Homo sapiens: one gene and its partners. The gene in region 1 interacts genetically with each later gene. Each region holds a gene or a part of one and is shown in the gene's direction. Other genes may lie near its edges. The genes, in order: TCOF1, MASTL and LIAS.

Region 1 (2,706 bases):
CTTAGTCAGCCACCACGTGTATATACACTGCACCCAGAGCTCCCCACCTTGCCTGGACCCCCTGACCAGGAAGGGCCGAGTGTGGGTAATCATCAGTTGAATGTCTGCATGGCCCCCACTTTTATTATAAATCTACAATGTATCATAGGAAGCCTTACTGTTCATCCACCCCTCACGTTATAGACAGGGAAACCAAGGCCCTGGGAGGAGATGGGTCCTGGCCAGAATCACACTGAAAGTGGGTGGGAAAGTCAGACCTAGAACCCAGGTCTCCTTCCTCCCAGCTCCAGACTCCATCTCCCTCCTTTCTGAATTTTCATTCCATTGATAGATTTCAGGCCCTTTCATTAACATTCTGGAGTCATTTTCTGTCCCCCACCCTAACTGGAGTTTTTAGTATAAAGAGACAGGGAAAAGCTGTAAGTTAGAAATGAAGTCAGGGTGTGAAATTGGTGGAAAGGTGTGAGCTTAGGAGACCAGCTGGGGCAGAGTGACCGCCAAGCCTTGCTCTCCCCATCTGTGCCATTGTAAGAAAAGATGGAGTCACTCCCTGCACCCTCTTCGCTCTTAGGTACCATAAGATCTGTCCCCCAACTCTCCCAGATCTGTGACCCCACATTCTCTCTCCATAGGTGGAAAAGAGGCTGCTTCAGGCACCACACCTCAGAAGTCCCGGAAGCCCAAGAAAGGGGCTGGGAACCCCCAAGCCTCAACCCTGGCGCTGCAAAGCAACATCACCCAGTGCCTCCTGGGCCAACCCTGGCCCCTGAATGAGGCCCAGGTGCAGGCCTCAGTGGTGAAGGTCCTGACTGAGCTGCTGGAACAGGAAAGAAAGAAGGTGGTGGACACCACCAAGGAGAGCAGCAGGAAGGGCTGGGAGAGCCGCAAGCGGAAGCTATCGGGAGACCAGCCAGCTGCCAGGACCCCCAGGAGCAAGAAGAAGAAGAAGCTGGGGGCCGGGGAAGGTGGGGAGGCCTCTGTTTCCCCAGAAAAGACCTCCACGACTTCCAAGGGGAAAGCAAAGAGAGACAAAGCAAGTGGTGATGTCAAGGAGAAGAAAGGGAAGGGGTCTCTTGGCTCCCAAGGGGCCAAGGACGAGCCAGAAGAGGAGCTTCAGAAGGGGATGGGGACGGTTGAAGGTGGAGATCAAAGCAACCCAAAGAGCAAGAAGGAGAAGAAGAAATCCGACAAGAGTGAGTGACCGCTTCTCCCAGCCCACCCCAAGGGCTGCTGGGCACCCCACGGGGGCGGGAGGGACCCTCAGCCAGCACCTGGTCTCATTCCTCCCATGTAGAAAAGAGAGGCTGAGACCAGCCTGGCCAACATGGCAAAACCCCGTCTCTACTAAAAATACAAAAAATTAGCTGGATGTGGTGGCGGGCACCTGTAATCTCAGCTACATGGGAGGCTGAGGCAGGAGAATTGTTTGAACCCGGGAGGCAGAGCTTGCAGTGAGCCGAGATCACGCATTGCACTCCAGCCTGGGTGACAGAGCAAGACTGTCAAAAAAAAAAAAAAAAAAAAAGGCTGAGAAGTGGTTTGTCCAGAGTCACAGGGGCAGCTTGTGGCAAAGCCCGAACTCGATTCCAGAGCACTTGAGTCAGCACTGCCAGGAATGCTCCAGAAGGACGAGGAGTCATGTCCTCTTTCCCCAAGCCCAGTGCAGCAGATCTTGGAGGAACCTGCTTCTCCAGCCAGCTCCTGGGTGCAGAATGGACCAGGAACCAGACTGTCAGAATCCTCATCCCAAACCCCATCTTGTCTCTAGACCTCAGTTTTCCCTCCATAGTAACACTGGCCCTTTACTGAGTGCTGTTCTAGACTCCGCATGCAGCAGGACCTCATTTAGGTAGAAATGAGACTCAGCAGGTAGAAAACTGCGGCTCGGGCTCGGAGAAGTAGAGATGCTGTTCAGGGCCACAGAGTTTTGCTAGGTGGAGCCAGAGTCAAACCTAGGCAGCACTCTCGAGCATCGCCCTGGACGGTGGGTTGCCAGTGACGCCCGAAGAGCCAGCTCGTTCTGGAACAAAAGTCGGGCACCCTCAGAGCAGGACTTGCAGCCCCTTGGTGCTCAGAACTGTGCTAGATTTCCATTTACAGTAGGGATAGATAGTGTCCATTTAAAATAAATTTGCGGGAGTTTTAAAAAGTGAGTTGAGCTAAAGAAAAATGGTAGTCATCCAGGTGGTCCATGGATGGGACAGAAATCATGAGCTGGCCTCCAGGGGGCAGGTGAACTGGCCCTGCTGGGTGATCACCACAGCTGCCAGCCTGTTTTATTTTTATTTTTTGAGACAGGGTCTTGCTCTGTCACCCAGGCTGGAGTTCAGTGTCAGGAACGCAGCTCACTGCAGGCTCAGCCTCCCAAGCTCAAGCGATCCTCTTGCTTCAGCCCCCCAAATAGCTGGGACCACAGGCGTGCACCACCATCCCCAGCTAATTTTTGTATTTTTTGTAGAGACAGGTCTCACTATGTTGCCCAAGCTGGTCTTGAACTCCTGGGCTTAAGCAATCCACCCGCCTCAGCCTCCCAAAGTGCTGGGATTGCAGGAATGAACCTCCACGCCCCGCCCTGCTGGCCTGTTGTGATGGCTTCTGGTGGTGTGGGGAAAGCTGGGAGCCCTGCCCTGTGCACCTCCCAACATTGACCCCAGCACTTAGGATTACCATCTGTTGTTCAGGAACTTTACTTTACTTCCCTTAGGA
Region 2 (3,658 bases), on another chromosome or scaffold:
CTTACCAATTAAGCATCAGTAAAATGACCAGAATAACTATAACATGATGAAGGGTTAATAACTGAAAACATATTCAAATATACACGGCCACCACTAAGACCTTGATCAACAAAAGGACAAAGAAAATGAATACACAGTTAACACATATATGTATATATGGGACTGTGTTCTTTTCACTAGTAGTAATTAAATAAATGCTAATATAAGAAAGAGTAAATGAACCATCTTACACTATTAAATGGGCAAAAGAAAGGAATACCGATGGTCCAGTTAGTAATACTACCAAAAAAGCACACTAATATTTTTCTGGGGGCATTGTAAATTAGCATAGTGCTTTCTGGAGGAAATCTGCCAATATGTTTTTAAATATAAAAGTTTTTAATTCTCTTTGATCTAGTGGCTTATGCTTTGGAATTTATTCTAAGGAAATTGTTCAAATGAACAAAATACACATAAATGAAATCACTTGTAGCAACATTGTTTCTAATAGGGAGAAACTAGAAATTACTTAAGTTCATCATAGAAACATGGATAAATGATTGATTATCAACTTAGAAACATATTGTATTCTTGGCCGGGTGCCGTGGCTCATGCCTGTAATCCCAGCACTCTGGGAGGCCGAGGCGGGTAGATCACTTGAGGTTGAGGTCAGGAGTTCTAGACTAGCCTGGCCAACCTGATGAAACCCCATCTCTACTAAAAATACAAAAATTAGCTGAGTGTGGTGGCACACGCCTGTAGTCCCAGCTACTTAGTAGGCTGAGGCAGGAGAATTGCTTAAACCTGGGAGGCAGAGGTTGCAGTGAGCCAAGATCACGACACTGCACTCTAGCCTGGGGGACAGAGCGATACTCCATCTCGAAAAAAAAAGAAACATATTGTATTCTCTATTAGAAAGTGTAGACGGATGGGAAAGTATTAATAATGAAAATAACCAGAAATTGGACTTAAAAACTCTGGAATTATAACTATTAATATTTGAAAATATATGCAGATCTACAATTCTTCATGTGGAAGTACAAAGTTCAACAGTTATGAATACCTAAAACTTTTTACTAAGTTTGGTAAAATCTGATCTATGCTGATGTAGGGGTATTTATAGTCTTTTGTTTGTTTGTTTGTTTTGGGATGGGGTTTTTGCTCTGTTGCCCAGGCTGGAGTGCAATGGCGTGATCTCGGCTCACTACAACATCCACCTCCCGGGTTCAAGCAATTCTCCTGCCTCAGCCTTCTGAGTAGCTGGGATTATAGGTGCCCGCCACCACGCCCAGCTAATTTTTGTATTTTTAGTAGAGACACAGTTTCACCATGTTGGCCAGGCTGGTCTCGAGCTCCTGACCTCAGGTGGTTCACCCGCCTCGGCCTCCCAAAGTGCTAGGATTACAGGCATGAGCCACCGTGCCTGGCCAGGGGTATTTATAGTCTGTTGATTCCAGTTCATGTGATTATTCATATGATTTGCCACTAGGGATATTTCATAATATGCAGTATATTTACCACATTACTTTTCTAAAATCTAAACATTTTTGAATTGTGATTTCAAAGAAATCTGACTTTGAAATCTTATTTCGAAATCTGATTCTAAGGATTTCAGATAAGCTATTGGAAAATATCACAAATGACAAAAATTTTGCATTAAGATAAAATTGTTGATAAATTTAAGTCACTTTGTTTATCATAAGGGTCTAATTTTAATAAAACTTTTTTTGTAAAATATCATATACGTGTATTATTATTATCACTTCATCAATGTGAGGCATAAATGACATTTGTTGTTAAAACTTTCAGTATACTTTCATTTATTTACTTATTTGTTTTTTTTTTTTTTCTTTGAGACAGAGTCTCGCTTTGTTGCCCGGGCTGGAGTGCTGGAGTGCAGGGGCACAATCTAAGTTCACTGCAAGCTCTACCTCCTGGGTTCACGCCATTCTCCTGCCTCAGTCTCCTGAGTAGCTGGGACTACAGGCACCCACCACCACGCCCGGCTAATTTTTTGTATTTTTAGTAGAGATGAGGTTTCACCATGTTAGCCAGGATGGTCTTGATCTCCTGACCTCGTGATCCACCCGCCCTGGACTCCCAAAGTGTTGGGATTACAGGCGTGAACCACCGCGCCCAGCCTATTCATTCATTTATTTATTTTGAGAGAGAGTCTTGCTCTGTCACCCAGGCTGGAGTACAGAGTACAGTGGCATGATCTAGGCTCACTACAACCTCTGCCTCCCAGGCTCAAGCGATTCTTGTCCCTCAGCCTTCCGAGTAGCTGGGACTAGAGGCATGAGCCACCACACCCAGCTAATTTTAAAAAGTCCTATAAGAACATTAGAGTTCTGGGATTATTTTTGTTTGTTTAAGAGACAGGGTCTCACTGTATTACCCAGGCTGGAGTGCAGTGATGTGATCATAGCTTACTGTAGCCTTGAACTCCTGGGAAAAGCAATTCTCCCACCTCAGCCTCCCCAGTAGCTGGGACTACAGGTGCTTGCCACAATGCCCAGCTAGTTTTTAAATTGTAGAGATAGGTCTCACTATGTTGCCCAAGCTGGTTTCAAACTCCTGGGCTCATGGGATCCTCTCCATTTGGCTTCCCAAAGTGCTAGGATTACAGATGTGAGCCACCATGCCTGGATAAGAACATTAGACTTCTCTTACCATTTTTTATATCTAAGTGGAATAGTATAGTATTATGTGTCAGTGTTGAATTATTTTAAAATATTATGCACTGAAACATGCTAATAATCTGGGTCAGTTTCTATCTTGACCTAGGCTTAAACATATTAGCTAACGTGAGGGGCCTAAAATTAATATTGATTCCATACCATCTCCTTATTTATTTATTTAGTTTTTGAGATAGAGTTTTGCTCTGTCGCCCTGGTCGGAGTGCAGTAGCGCGATCTCGGCTCACTGCAACCTCCGCCTCCCGTGTTCAAGTGATTCTCCTGCCTCAGCCTCCCGAGTACCTGAGATTACAGGCGCCCACCACCAAGACCAGCTACTTTTTGTATTTTTAGTAGAGACAGTGTTTCACCATGTTGGCCAGGCTGGTCTCGAACTCCTGACCTCAAGTGATCCATCTGCCTCAGCCTCCCAAGGTGCTGGCATTATAGGTGTGAGCCACCGTGCCCAGCCACTGTCTCCTTTTTTAACATTTGGTTTACAAAAAATTGTTTTGTTGTCATATACATAACATTCATTTTTAGTCAATGGGAGGTAAAGGTTTTAAATACATTTATATACTTTTCTTTGCATACATAGATATTAATATGATGGATATCCTTACAACACCATCAATGGCAAAACCTAGACAAGATTATTCAAGAACCCCAGGACAAGTGTTATCGCTTATCAGCTCGTTGGGATTTGTAAGTACTTGAGAAGAAAATTAACATGACATACCCCTTCATGATCACCACTTAAAATTTAAAATCACCTTTAAAAAAAAAGATCAAAATAGATTTAAATATCAAGCATTTGGATTTACTTTAACAGTTTGTCTACTTAGGTGGTATAACAGTCTATGTACTTAGGTGGTGTTTTGGGGAAGGTAAACCTGTTGTTTTTATTTTTCTCTTTTTAATAGAACACACCAATTGCAGAAAAAAATCAAGACCCTGCAAACATCCTTTCAGCCTGTCTGTCTGAAACATCACAGCTTTCT
Region 3 (3,658 bases), on another chromosome or scaffold:
AAAAAAAGTAAGGATTGTTATCCACATCCATTCAAATTTTAGAAAAATGAACATTTTAAGCTTCGGGCAAGAGTAATATCATTTTTTTCTTTAATTTTAGCATTTAGCAGTGATTTTATTAGCTTCTACATATGATCTGTGTCATAGAGCCTGAAAGAAGTTACAGTAAACAATAACCACCATTTTCACTAAATCATAAACAGTAGAGACCATAACTTAATTTCAGTGGAGAAATTCTGTTAAAAAGTGATTTCTATAATGTCAGTTTCAGTTACTTTTAAGTTCATAAATTTGTTTCTTCTCTTTCCTGTTAACTAGTCTCCAATGAAAAACAATTACAGAAAATAAAGCTGCATTAGAATTGAAATGAAATCCAGTTTAACATCAGAAGCTTTCTGGCCTTTTGGCTTAAAGGATAAGTCATTTAAGCCATGGTGGTTTGGCCATTGTTGAAGTCTAGGACACAGCCTGTTCCAACCTCATCATGATACCACCACCAGTGGGTGCCAGTTTCCCTGGTTTCACTTAAAAACATGATCCTTTCCAGTGAAAATTCCAGAATCATGCATTTCTTTACCTAATATGTGGCAGTGTTGTATACTTACCAGCAGAGGGCAGCTTAGTCTTCAGAAAAGAAATGAACTTGAAAGTTTCAACCCTCTGACATGTGGGTTCAGCTTATTTTTTTCTTTGTTCAGTATGGAGACTCTCTTACTTCTGCTTTTTTTCCTTTCTCTTCTAATTTTTCGCTTCAGAATTCTGGTTTCTCAATGCATAAACTGAAGTAATTTCTTCCATTCTACTTTTCTCTGCCCCAGGCTTGAGATAGAACTAGGGAGCCCAGTGAGGCCTTTTCTTTCCTAAATTAACAGGCATCTGTGCATAAATGCTACCTTTGAACTATGTGATTTAAGATAATGTGCAGAATGTACTTCTCTGGTCTTTCAGGTTGCTTGCATAACTATGTACTTGGTTGAACTTGTAATTCTTGCTGACAACAGTCCTGCTGTTTTCCAGTAAGGTTCGTGATCCTCGGGCCAATTTTGATCAGTCCCTACGTGTACTGAAACATGCCAAGAAGGTTCAGCCTGATGTTATTTCTAAAACATCTATAATGTTGGGTTTAGGCGAGAATGATGAGCAAGTATATGCAACAATGAAAGGTAAAGAAATTGAAAAATGAAAAATCTTTCCCATGTAATTTGAGTAATAGCAGGAACCCACTCACTTTGAAGGCCCTTCTAAGAACAAAGAAAAGTATATGGTTATAGATGGCAGCATGAAAAGGAAACCAACTTGCACATGCACCCTCAAATCTAAAATACAAGTTAAAAAAAAAAAAGCAAAGGAAATAAATTTTCTTGGAATTTCATGGAGTGATATGCATGACGCTCAGGATACAAAATTTATATCCCATTTTATTCCCCATCCTTTGCATCCACTGAAAGCATGATTTCATCCACTTTTCTCATTCTATCATTGGACACTTTTGGAGAGCCAGCCTGGTACCAGGCACTGACAGTTCATAGATCAATGAGACTAATCCAGGCCTCTGAGAAAGAGCTTACTTGTAGCATTGTCACATAACATGGTGTGCTTTGGACTTTGCTGAACTTTAGTCCCGTAAGTCCATTTGCTTTGTGATTCTTGGACTTTTTAAACTTTGGAATTTCAAAGTTTTAATTTTAGCTGAGGACCCTTGGACTACTTGTAGTTATTTAGTGGTTCAAAGAGTAATAAGTTCATATAATAATCAAGACCTGCTGTTTACCACATTGCACACAGTTTATTAGAAAGATTCTGATATGTCATAGTTTAAATCACAGCCCCCATAGCATATCTTGTGCATTGAGTAAAAGCCTAATGCAACATATTTGCTCTATAATATAGGTGCATTGAGGTTTTTGCATATACCATTTCCCATACCTTTTCTACCAGACTCCTACTCTAAAATACCCTCCACTACTATTTTAGCATTGATTCCATAGTATTAGAAGTATTTATCCTTGTATGTATCAGCCCTACATGACTGTCTTAATTATTATTGTTTTCAGTCCTTACCACAGTCCCTGGCACATAATACTTTTGAATGAATAGATGTTGTCTTATTCCCCAACATGAAGATTATGGACTGTCATAAAGTTCACACCGTTTTTAAATATTCCTTAGGAAAATTATGCTTAGATCTACAATTAAAGTATTTGCTAATGTAATTTGTGCTTTTCTTCCTACAGCACTTCGTGAGGCAGATGTAGACTGCTTGACTTTAGGACAATATATGCAGCCAACAAGGCGTCACCTTAAGGTACATGTATCTTGATTTGCTTTTTTTTTTTTTTTTTATTTTTAAAGATGGAGTTTTGCTCTTGTCGCCTGAGCTGGAGTGTAGTGGCACAATCTCGGCTCACTGTAATCTCTGCTTCCTGGGTTCAGGTGATTCTCCTGCCTCACCCTCCTGAGCAGCTGGGACTACAGGCGGGTGCCACTACATCCGGCTAAAATATACATATATATAATTTTTTTTTTTTTTTTTTTTTTTTTTTGAGACGGAGTCTCGCTCTGTCGCCCAGGCTGGAGTGCAGTGGGGCAATCTCGGCTCACTGCAACCTCCACCTCCCAGGTTCAAATGATTTTCATGCTTCAGCCTCCTGAGTAGCTGGGATTACAGGCACACACTACCACACCCGACTAATTTTTTTGTAGTTTTAGAGACAAGATTTTGCCATGTTGCCCAGGCTGGTCTCGAACTCCTGAGAGCTCAGGCAATCCACCCGCTTCGGCCTCCCAAAGCGCTAGGATTACAGGCGTGAGCCACCGCACCCAGCCAATTTTTTATATTTTTAATAGAGATGGGGTTTCATCATTTTGGCCAGGCTAGTCTTGAACTCCTGACCTTAGGTGATCCACCCGCCTCAGCCTTCCAAAGTGCTGGGATTACAGGTGTGAGCCACTGCGCCCAGCCCATGTATAGCTTTTGACTCCCAAAAAAACATAACTACTAATAGCCTTCTGTTGACCGGAAGCCATACCAATAACAGTCAATTAACACACATTTTGTATGTTACATGTACTTATATATATACGTATGTGTGTGTGTATATCTGTATATACACACACACATATACACACACACACACACACACACATATATACACATCTTATTCTTATGATAAAGTCAGCTAGAGAAAAAATTTTTTGAAGAAAATCATAAGGAAAAGAAAATATATTTACTAGTCATTAAGTGGAAGTGGACCATCATAAAGGTCTTCATCCTCATCATCTTCATGTAGATGAGGACAAGGGAGAAGAGGAGGAGTTAGTCATGCTGTCTCAGGGGTGGCAGAAATGGAAGAAAATCCTTGTATAAGTGGGCCTGTGCAGTTACCATGTTGTTCAAGGCTCAGCTGTATTCTTATAAGTCCCAGTTTTCATTTTATTATCTACATAAATCAGCTACGTTTGCACATATTTGCTGCCTCCCCCATTCTCTTCACAAATTTCACAACTCAAGTGAACCTAGAGAAAAAGAATTTAAAAGTTGGGAAATGGCACTCATTTACACTTGGTTATTGTGTAACTTGTTTTTGTTATGTTAGAGCCAGAGGCGAAGAAAGAATGGGAAACCATTCTTTCTATTTCTATCATGGACATTTATCCA

Evidence for each region.
Region 2: changes in TCOF1 (region 1) and MASTL together harm fitness more than expected from each alone (negative genetic interaction), as found in Homo sapiens cells (one large-scale study listed by BioGRID).
Region 3: changes in TCOF1 (region 1) and LIAS together harm fitness more than expected from each alone (negative genetic interaction), as found in Homo sapiens cells (one large-scale study listed by BioGRID).

What each region holds. Positions count from the first base shown.
Region 1 is NC_000005.10:150,395,650-150,398,355, forward strand, and holds part of TCOF1 (treacle protein), read left to right. Parts: intron 1-632; coding exon 633-1,193; intron 1,194-2,704; coding exon 2,705-2,706.
Region 2 is NC_000010.11:27,161,809-27,165,466, forward strand, and holds part of MASTL (serine/threonine-protein kinase greatwall), read left to right. Parts: intron 1-3,255; coding exon 3,256-3,362; intron 3,363-3,580; coding exon 3,581-3,658. UniProt on the Homo sapiens protein: Serine/threonine kinase that plays a key role in M phase by acting as a regulator of mitosis entry and maintenance.
Region 3 is NC_000004.12:39,469,002-39,472,659, forward strand, and holds part of LIAS (lipoyl synthase, mitochondrial isoform 1 precursor), read left to right. Parts: intron 1-1,017; coding exon 1,018-1,163; intron 1,164-2,234; coding exon 2,235-2,305; intron 2,306-3,658. UniProt on the Homo sapiens protein: Catalyzes the radical-mediated insertion of two sulfur atoms into the C-6 and C-8 positions of the octanoyl moiety bound to the lipoyl domains of lipoate-dependent enzymes, thereby converting the octanoylated domains into lipoylated derivatives.